3 linked regions of the Homo sapiens genome follow. The protein of the gene in region 1 interacts with the protein of each later gene in a biochemical or structural test. Each region holds a gene or a part of one and is shown on either strand. Other genes may lie near its edges. The genes, in order: SMURF2, SCN5A and TTC3.

Region 1 (2,918 bases):
TGGATCATTCAACATGCACGCACCTTGAAAGCTAAATCTGGACGTTTCAAAATCAGATGCAGATCTTCAACACCAAGGGAAGCGGGATTCCCTTACTTCCAAAATGAACTCTTCAAAGTAATTTACGCCATAGAGTTAGAATCACTGTTCATACTACCGCCCCTCAACCCCACTTCATTCTGTTAGGTAAAAGCAGGATTTTCTAAGCTTATTAATAATCTTTAGAGCAAAATTCTTCCTTTTTCATAACTGTAGCTGATTAAAATTATGAGCAGTTAACGCTTTAGGATGGTTTTGTTAATGGAAACTTACACTGTAGTTAAAATACAATATAAATTAGGTGCACTTGTCAGAGACTTTGGTTTATAGGAATAGTCCATATATTAAAGATAAGCTGACCCAGCAAAATAACGAAAATCCCATCCCATCCACATGCTCTGAGAAGCTATAAAAATGCAGTATTTTAAGATTAAAAGTAAATCCAAAATACCTAATCATATTGACTCAAGATAAAAACATTAGGTTTTTTTTTTTTTAAAAGAGTCTCTTAAAAACAGGGAGCCCCTGAACACATCTTATTGTCACAAATAAATGACTAAGTTTAGACTAAATGGTTGCATTAGGAATTTGACAACCAAAATTATATCGCTGTATTCCAGGAAATCCGTTCTTGAAAAATGTAAAAAAGACCCACTTAGACTAGGTTGAAACATATAATGCAAAATATAATGCTCTGCTATAGAAAAACACAAACATGTAAATGGCTTAATTTCTTAAAGATGATTCTTTTAGCCAATTGTTTACAAAGGTAGAATAATTCAAAATAATTTTATTTTTTTTTACAAAGAGCAAGTACAGGAGCTGTTCAAGATCATGTATTCAATCAAAATGAAATGTGACTTGTACCGACTGCTGAAGTTGTCTTGATGTTTGAGAGACTTGAAATCTGTGAAGAAATTTGAATAGATTACCTTTTATAAAAATAGTAGTAGTCTTTAAGTGTAGAATACTGCCTAACTCTGGAAATGTAGGAAAAGTCAGCATTCTTTAGGTTCAAGATATTAAGTTTAAATAGCAGCTGAATGTGGCCTCATGGCAAAGCATAAAGACCTTTTTTTTCCTTGAAAAGGAATTTCAAAATTGTCCTTTCCCCTCACAGTGTCCTAAAATGTAAAAAAAAAAAAAAAAAGGGGGGGGGGGGGAGTGTTTTCCTGTATTTCAGCATATTCTTTGAAACTCTGCTGAAAGGAGGCTGTCAGTCAGGGTTGTATAAATAGAGTCCTGGGTAAATCCTTGAAGCTTGTCATTCCACAGCAAATCCACATGTTTCTTCAATGGCTGTTAGCAGCTTTTCATATAGCTTTTCATAGCTTTCATAGGGTGGAATGTCTATTCGATTGAAGCTGTGAATAAGCAAATCAAATTTTATACAGTTCATTCAAAATAAGTAAACTGGCCTAGCAAGTGTATACCAGTATAGCCACATCACTCTGTGTCACACAGAAAACTAAAAGGTATTTCTCTAAAACAGAGATGACCACTTTTGGGTTTTCCTACCAATTTCCGAATAATCTTAACTTTTAAATCACTTAAGTTGCTTATCATTCCCTTTAAAGGCCCATTTAACACTAGTAAGTACAATAAATAAAAAGTCAAATCTGTTTGGAACTAACACTTATGTACATGGAATGGGGAATACAGCTACAAAAATACCTTACCAAGTGTGGGCTTTCGGCAGGTTGTTAGTGCAGGCATCAATCTGGTGTATGGTAAAGAGTCTCGGGCCTGCAGCACCTGCAAATGAAGGAAATGTGGATGAAATCACTGCAGGTGCGTGCATTAGTCTCCAAAATCTTAAGAATAAAACTGGTAAGTTAACCACAGGATCTGGGGATAGGGGAATGCTAATGAATCCACACATACTACCAAAGGGCAGCAGGAAAAGCATCTGGGTTTTAAGAGCCAGAATTAACCTTGGATAAGGCTTAGATTCCGTAATAGGTTCACATTTCCATTTGAGAAAAAACTCAAGATTGAAATCCCTTTCTCAATTTCTATCTTTTATAGAAAGTCAATATCCCAAAAGCATGAGAAGAAAAGTAATCAGGCAAATCCAAGGTAAAATACATAGGCACACATTCAAAAAGATGACGACCTGATGCAAATTTAGATTTCATGACTCAAACTGGGCTGACAGCAAAAGAGCCGTCTATAGAATCCATTTCAGTTCGCACAGGCACCCCATATAAATACATGTAGCAGAAATACAACTTCACTTTATGCATCTGGGAAGTGTGAGGATGAGGAGCTCTCCTTACAGAGAAGGGCAGCACAGCTGAAAGCACGCTCTCCCCCCAGGGATTTCAGCGCATGCGCTGTGGGCAGCACTGTCGAATTATGTACCAGTGTCGCTTTGTGTGTCCTTATTCATCACCAGCAGCTTTGAAAATGAAGTGCTTAAGAGGTAAAGGAAGCAACTGCCACCCAGTGAAGCACCACAATCATTAGCAATATTACCAGCTCCTCCCAAAATTAACCAGCTTATTCCACAGAAAACCATTCTTAAAAAAGGAATATGGTTGTAAACAAATGGTCTGATGCCATGCAGTAATTAAAATGCTCTGACCGAACAGATGGTTTCCATGACCCATGCTGCTTCTGTCTAATAAGAGAAAGAACGAAAAGTAGAGGGGAGAGGCATCCCAGGCAGGTAAACGTTTCACCAGGTCAAGATGTGAACATGGAAGTGAACGACTTCCCTACAGGAATGTGCAACAGAATTAAAAGTAAGGTGACCAGAAAACAAAGGCAGAGCATCACCACGTACGGTCTCTAGCATGCGGCACTCACTACAATCAGAGAAGCCCGCAGAAAAGGCTCTTGGGAAGGGAACAAAAGAAAGGAGGGAGAAGAAGGTA
Region 2 (3,655 bases), on another chromosome or scaffold:
CAGGCAAATGATTTTAGGGAGCCAGCCCTAAAGATGCAGAGGAACAGCGTTCAGGCAGAGGGAATAGCAAGTGCAAAGCCCCTGAGGAGGACACATCCAAGGGATGAGAGGGACTAACAGGGCCAGGTGTGGTGAAACATTAAAATGAATTTCATGAGTTAGGATTTGGACTGTGCAGGGCCTTCTAGACCATAGATAAGTTTGGATATACTGTGTGAGTAAGATGGGGAGGAGTAGGGTGGGAGGAGTTGTTGAACAGAGGAGTGACATTATCTGATTTACTTTTTAAAGGAATCCCTTTCTACTATGCAGAGAATACAGGGATGAGAAGAAGAAAAGAAGCCAGTTAGGAGGCTGTTGCAGTGGTTTTGGGAAAGAGAAGATGACTGCCTGGACTAGGATGGTGTATTAGTCAGCTATTATAATAATAATGCTGTGTAACAAACTACCCCAGAAGTCAATCTCTAGCAACAAGCCTTTATTCTCATGCTCACTTATCTGCAAGTTAACTACAACATGGCCCATGTAGGTTAGGCTTAGCTGGGAAGCCCTGCTCCAGACGGCATGCTGGCTGGGCTGGGCTCCATGCTGTGGGTTAGGCTCAGGGCTGCTCTGCATCTTTGTTCTGAGGCTTAGGCTGAAAAGGTGACAGCTATCTGGGGAAGCTCTTTTCATGGAGAATTCCTGGAGCACAAGAGCAAGATAAACAGCACTAGCCCAGTTGAGGTTTCTGTTCACAGCATGTCCACTAACATTCTGTTGTCCAAAGCAAGTCATTCATGCCCAGGGCAGGGAAGTTAATTCACCCTCGGTGGGAGGGGAAAGAGAGTGCATATGTGCCAAGTGATAACCAAACTATCATAGATGGCAAAGAAGGAGGGGAGAAGTTGGGAGAATTTAAAACTTGCTTGTGAGTTAAGCTGGCCAAATTCATGGTTGCGTTGGACCTAGGGTAGTACCATTGCACCAGCCACCTCAGCCCTCTCAGGTGCCTCCACTTGAATACTTCCATGACTGGGAGCTCACTACCTCCCTAGGCAACATTTCAGAGCAGTCCTACCAATGGCCGGGATGTCCTTAACTTGAGCCCAGATCTATTTGGTATCCACCCTATGCCCTGCTTCTTCTACCCTGGCTAATCTAGGCCCATCTTCCCTCTGCCCTATGAAGATTAGAGTCTTGCTATTGCATGCTGAACAGCTCAGCACCTGGGCCGTGGTCATGCAGGGCCCTGCTGAAGTGAAGGCTTTATTGGCCCTCCTTGGTTCTGTGGGAGGCTCCAGGTAAGCCTAGAGAATGCCTGCCTGCCACCTCCCTTCACCAGGGCTGTTTCCAGGCCTGGGTTTTTTACTGATAAAAATGGTGCATGCATGGTGAAAACAAACCCCACAGTGCAGAAGTACATGAAGTGAAAAGGGAACTTCTCCCTCTTTTTCCCCTCCCCCACAATCCCATTCCCCAGATATGTCCACTTTAATTATTTGGTATGCATTTTCCAGATCTTTTTCTTGTTTTTTCATCAAACTGTTTGTCTTGGAGATGTCCGCATGGGAGCATCCAAAGAACTGCCTCGTTCTCTTTGTTGTCTATCAGAGCCCAGAGTTGGACTGTGTCTATAATTGATTTGAATATGGTTGCTATTGATTGGTGTTTTGTTCTTATGGTATTAGGAACACTGCTGCAATGAACATCATTTATGTGTATTTTTGATGCACATGTGTAATTATTTATGAAGTTAGATTACTAGACGAGGACTTGAGGGCCAATTTAAAATTTTCTTGGTAAATCCAGCCTAACTGCCTCCACAAAAGACACAGCCCCCCACCAGCCATATGTAAGCATTGTACTTTATCCTGCTATTAGCATTATCTTAGAGCATGTTAGATTTTTTTTTCAGCTTCTTTATGCTCTTGACGCTAGGAAACTTGTGGTCAGTTAAGACTCCCAGATCATTTTTGCATGTACTAATGTGTATGGCAGCATCAGGCTCAGGGAGGACCTGTGATATGTGTAGCTTCCTGACCACACTCAGGAATCACTGCTGATGAGAGGCAGTGAAGAAGAAAGGAGAATGAAGGAGACAGTGATTGGGAGGAGGGGTGGAGGGAGTTCTTAACTGGGAGGGAGTTGGGAACAGAGAAGCCCAGCATCCAGTGTCCCATCAAGACCTTCATCCTATCCCTGTGGCATCCCCAGCCTGAGTCTGGACCGGCCTCCCCAGGTCCAGCAGGACAGGAGCTGGGGGCAGGACCCTTTTCCCCAGGCTGACGCAAATCTCCTGATTGCACTCAGACCACGCCATCGGAGGAGCCAGGCGGGCCCCAGATGCTGACCTCCCAGGCTCCGTGTGTAGATGGCTTCGAGGAGCCAGGAGCACGGCAGCGGGCCCTCAGCGCAGTCAGCGTCCTCACCAGCGCACTGGAAGGTCAGCAACCCCAGGTCATTTAAGCACCCCCCACTTCCGCTGCAGGTACCCTCATCTTTATCCCAGCCTGACCCAGGCATCCCCCATTTGTCTTGGCCTGCTTTAGACATCCCCACACTGTCCCAGCCTTCTCTGTTCTGTGTAGCCTTGCCTGTCCTTCCATGTCTTTTCATCTGTTTCAGCTTGTTCTCTCCTGGGTATCACCATGCCTGTGTTTCTCCCAAATACTCCCACATCTGGCCTGTCCCAGATGCTTGTCAGTCTCATTCCATCATCTCCCAACCATAACCATGTCTATCTAGGACCATCCTGTCCTGAGCATACCCATGCCTGTTCTAGCTATTCCCATATCTACTTCAGACTATTCCAGGCATCCTACATCTTTCCCAGCCATTCCTGCCCTAGGCAACTCCACATCCCTTCCAGTCTGAATGGGGCACCCCCCATCCTGATCTTGTTCCCTCCTATCTCGGATGTATTCTCATCTTTTCCAGCCTGTCCTTGGCATCCCCTCTCCCATTTGTCCTGACACATCCCAGATGTCCACATCTGTCCCTGCCCATTCTGTCCCAGGTGTCCTCGTGTCTGAACTTGCATGTCCCCATTACTGTCTCATCATTTTCAGCCTGTCCTCCCCTGAGTGTCCCCAGGTCTATGTGGGACTGTTGTCTTAAGCAGTTGTACGTTTGTCCTGATAATCTCTCCTGTCCCCATTTTCCCCACCTCCATCTTTGTTTCCTGTCCCTATGGACCTCTTCTCTCATATTTCCAGATTAAGGAGCCAGGACACAGGCCACCCACTCCCTTGGCCTTCCCTGCTCCCACTGTCCCGCTGTCACCTAGCAGCCCTGTCATCTCCCAGAGCAAGTCATAAATCTTTCCTGGAAGGTATTCCAGTTACATATGACTCAGTCAACAGAATCAAACTAACTCATTGGCTGTCCCCTCAGAGTTAGAGGAGTCTCGCCACAAGTGTCCACCATGCTGGAACCGTCTCGCCCAGCGCTACCTGATCTGGGAGTGCTGCCCGCTGTGGATGTCCATCAAGCAGGGAGTGAAGTTGGTGGTCATGGACCCGTTTACTGACCTCACCATCACTATGTGCATCGTACTCAACACACTCTTCATGGCGCTGGAGCACTACAACATGACAAGTGAATTCGAGGAGATGCTGCAGGTCGGAAACCTGGTAAGGGCTGCCTGCAGCTGGCTCTCAAATGGGCATCCTGG
Region 3 (3,655 bases), on another chromosome or scaffold:
TCAAGAGTTTAGAAAAATATATACCAAAGTGGTAATACTGATTACAGGGCGGGTTTTTAAATGCCCTTTTTATTTGTATTTTCTATTGTATGTAATACTTTGTAATTTGAAAATTAATACTTTTAATTTTAACAAACTATGGTTATCAAATTAGGTCCCAGTTTGAACACATATTTTTCTTTCTCATACAATCTGGTGAAGTTTCAGTAAGTCAGCTTTTATATCTTCGTTACTACAAACATCCATCATGAAGCAAAAACAGAACCCTCTTCTCCAGGCAATCACGGTCTATCTTGGGGTGGGTGTGGCCACACGACACATTGACACATCTGTGTAATTCCAAAGCCATGGTTACACAGAAGAAAATTATTCAAAAATGATTTCCCCAACTGTTCAAAATACCACACTGGATGTACAAAGTTCATGTACTTGACCATCTGCAGCAAAACAAGGGCAAGAGAGAGAAGGCTCAGATCCCCCACGATGGTCAGAGCCCTTGTCACTCATGTGCAGGGGCTTCTCTCCATGCTGGGCCCAAACGTATCACAGCAGACACCATGACCTCGGCCATTCACTGATTGCTCTAACTGGACACATTCAAGTACATTGAAATTCAGTTTCTAATGTTGGGATCAAATAAATTAGGTCTAGAAATGAATGGGGCTAAATCATGGATTAAAAATTTTGTTTGCTTCTTGTTTTTCATTAAAAAACAAAACTATACAGTTATACATACAATCCTCACAGGGACATCTTCTGCTTTCTGCCCCTTGGTTTTGGGTGATGGTGCAACAACCACCGAGGGTGAGCCCTGGGAGGACCTGGTCACGGGGGTGGCAGAGCTGGGCTCATAAGTCCTCTTGTCCTTTCCTGGGTTTGGCTGCGAAAATAACAGGGGTGGCGGGGAGGGGACAAGAGGGAAGCAACCAGTTATCCAACAACTTGACCATCTTCTGTCTTTAGTACATTGCTCTCTAGGTTTTGGTTTGAAGCTTTTTTTTTTTTTTAACAATTCTCATATTTTATAAATAAATAAGGATAAACTGGAACATCTAGATAAAATACCTTTTTCTTTTTCTGTTCATCTAGAATGTGTTCTGTCACTCTTTGGACAATTTCATCAATACTCAATCCTGAGAGTGAGTTCTTGTTTTTGCTTCGCACTTTTTTAATAAAACCAGCAAGCTCAGTGCTGAAAGGGAGAGTGAGTGATGAATGACAACAGAAAGTTCTCTACTGCTAAGAAATATTACATGCCAATATTAATCCAACAGCCCAACCCAAAGAAACAAAGACAAATGCACATAAAATTAATCTGAAGACCACTGATAACAACAATAACTATCTAAAAAGCATAACTTTTTTTTTTTTTTTGAGACAGTGTCTCACTCTGTTGCCCAGGCTGGAGGGCAGTGGCGCGATCCCTGCTCACTGCAACCTCTGCCTCTCAGGTTCAAGCGAGTTTTGCCATTTTTTTTTAAGAAGAGATGGGGTTTCACCATGTTGGTCAGGCTGGTCCCGAACTCCTGACCTCAGGTGATCCACCTGCCTCGGCCTGGCGTGAGCCACCATGCCTGCTGGCTAATCATATTTTAACTGCCCCATTGTTTACAAATTTCAATTTTGAAGCCTGTAATTAACACTGTCTCAGAAACTGAAATAATAGGGCACATGCCAAAGGTCATTCCTGAGCATAGAGTCCTTTGATCCGAGCTGCACTTCAGAGACACCGCCTCTACCTCATCATCTTTCACAGCTGAGACAAGAGGCAACTCTGTCCCCCTCGTAACAACCTGAACAGCGGAAACCAGAGGTGGAGGCAGAAACGCTACTGAAGAGCCTGCCATCATCCCAACTCTATTTACAGCTCTTGCTCACTCAGGTAAGGGCAGCTTTTTCCCACATTCACAAGGACCCCTTGTTAACATGTCCACATGCCCCATTCACTATGGAATTCCATCCAGTCTTCAACCTCACACTCTAACAAATCAGAGGTCTTATATAACAAGGTTTAAGTTGCTGCTGCCTTCTTTGCTATATATAATTTTGTCCCCCCAAATGATGCAAAATTATTGTTTTGCGTTCATTTATTGATACTATAACACTAGTTTTAGACAGTGCTATTGGTCTCATCAAAATCTTAGCAAATTGTCATGGGTTCTGATGAATATTACCCAGTGCTCAATGTTTTCAATTTACATATGCACATTAAAAAATTTATTTGAGGCTGGGTGTGGCGTCTCATGCCTGTAACCCCAGCACTTTGGGAGGCCAAGGCGGGTGAATCACTTGAGGTCAGAAGTTCGAGACCAGCCTGGCCAACATGGTGAAACCCCACCTGTACTAAAAATACAAAAATTAGCCAGGCTTAGTCATGCATGCCTATAATCCCAGCTTCTCAGGAGGCTGAGGCAGGAGAATCGCTTGAACTCGGGAGGGAGAGGTTGCAGGGAGCCGAGACTGTGCCACAGCACTCCAGCCTAGGCAACAGAGTGAGACTCTGTCTCAAAAAAAAAAAAAAAAAGAAAGAAAAAACCCACCAATTTATTTGAAAATACTTATCTCTATATTTACAAAAAGAAAGAAATGTAGCAACTGTCTTTCTGAGCAAAACAATTATGCAACCCTTTTCATGTTAACACCTAACTAGCCATGATTTTATCTAATCAGGAAACCTCAGTTCGATAAAGTATTAAACACAGTCACAGACATTTTCTGTTCATACCTGTTGTAACATGGGAATACCACTGACAGGTGCTCAATAATACTATTGAACGGCTTTTTTGGAGACTGGCTTGAACGCGCAGCACGTCCTGGAGGAACAGGCTGCTTCCGATCAGCCACAGGGCTTCGTTCTGACAGAGCTGCCTGGCCAGCCCGTTTTGGCCCTGTCAGCTGAGTGGCTTCAGGCTGACCAGGGGGTGGCCCTGGCAACAGCGCAGAAGGAGCCTCCCCTGGGGAATCACCAGCAGAGAACACACTAGGATCCCTGTGAAGTGCTGCGTGGTTTCCAGTCACGTCGCTTGCAGAAGTCACAAGCCCTTGGCCATCGTCGCCTGAAGACTCAGGGAGTAACTCGGGATGAACCTGTGAGGAACACACCACACCATGGATCACTTAGGGCTTCCCTTGAAGGATGAAACGCCCAAGGACAAAGGCCGATGAATAAATACAGTAACGCAGCGCAGAGGCTCCGTGCACAGGAAACCTGAATACCATGAATTAAATATTTTCGTTTTAAAAGAATTCTTGACAATAACTTGTTAGTTATTAGAACAAGAGTAGGAGGGCTCAGACTTCTAAATAATTATCTCTATAAGTCACTATTTTCTCTGTAAGATGAGACCATTTTGCCTGCCTACTGGCCCTCCTTCAGCCTCTACCTGGTTACACTTTTCCCCTTCTGAGCTAAACCATGTAGCTGACAGATGGAACATCATGGCCACCACACTCCCCAGAGCTGTCTCCATCCCAGGGGGCCGCCTCCTCTTCCCTGCCAGCTCTCCTGGCAGCTCTCAGGCCTCCGTCCACGCCTGCAGTGCTGACACTCCTCCCCATGCAGCTGCCTGAGGCCAAATCTTTTTAAAAGTTTGCAGTCTAGAATATTTTCCTGAGATCCAAATCTGCAAATCCACTTGGGTGATTCCAAGGCAAC

What was found.
Region 2: the proteins of SMURF2 (region 1) and SCN5A interact in a surface display test, tested with the Homo sapiens proteins (one large-scale study listed by IntAct).
Region 3: of the proteins of SMURF2 (region 1) and TTC3, one has a biochemical effect on the other in vitro, tested with the Homo sapiens proteins (one study listed by BioGRID).

Annotation. Positions count from the first base shown.
Region 1 is NC_000017.11:64,544,545-64,547,462, forward strand, and holds part of SMURF2 (E3 ubiquitin-protein ligase SMURF2), read right to left. Parts: intron 1,795-2,918; coding exon 1,719-1,794; intron 1,404-1,718; coding exon 1,304-1,403; 3' UTR 1-1,303. UniProt on the Homo sapiens protein: E3 ubiquitin-protein ligase which accepts ubiquitin from an E2 ubiquitin-conjugating enzyme in the form of a thioester and then directly transfers the ubiquitin to targeted substrates.
Region 2 is NC_000003.12:38,597,688-38,601,342, reverse strand, and holds part of SCN5A (sodium channel protein type 5 subunit alpha), read left to right. Parts: intron 1-2,292; coding exon 2,293-2,425; intron 2,426-3,375; coding exon 3,376-3,614; coding exon of another isoform or gene 3,615-3,655. UniProt on the Homo sapiens protein: Pore-forming subunit of Nav1.5, a voltage-gated sodium (Nav) channel that directly mediates the depolarizing phase of action potentials in excitable membranes.
Region 3 is NC_000021.9:37,195,107-37,198,761, reverse strand, and holds part of TTC3 (E3 ubiquitin-protein ligase TTC3), read right to left. Parts: intron 3,088-3,655; coding exon 2,726-3,087; intron 1,193-2,725; coding exon 1,066-1,192; intron 881-1,065; coding exon 737-880; intron 1-736. UniProt on the Homo sapiens protein: E3 ubiquitin-protein ligase which catalyzes the formation of 'Lys-48'-polyubiquitin chains. Mediates the ubiquitination and subsequent degradation of phosphorylated Akt (AKT1, AKT2 and AKT3) in the nucleus.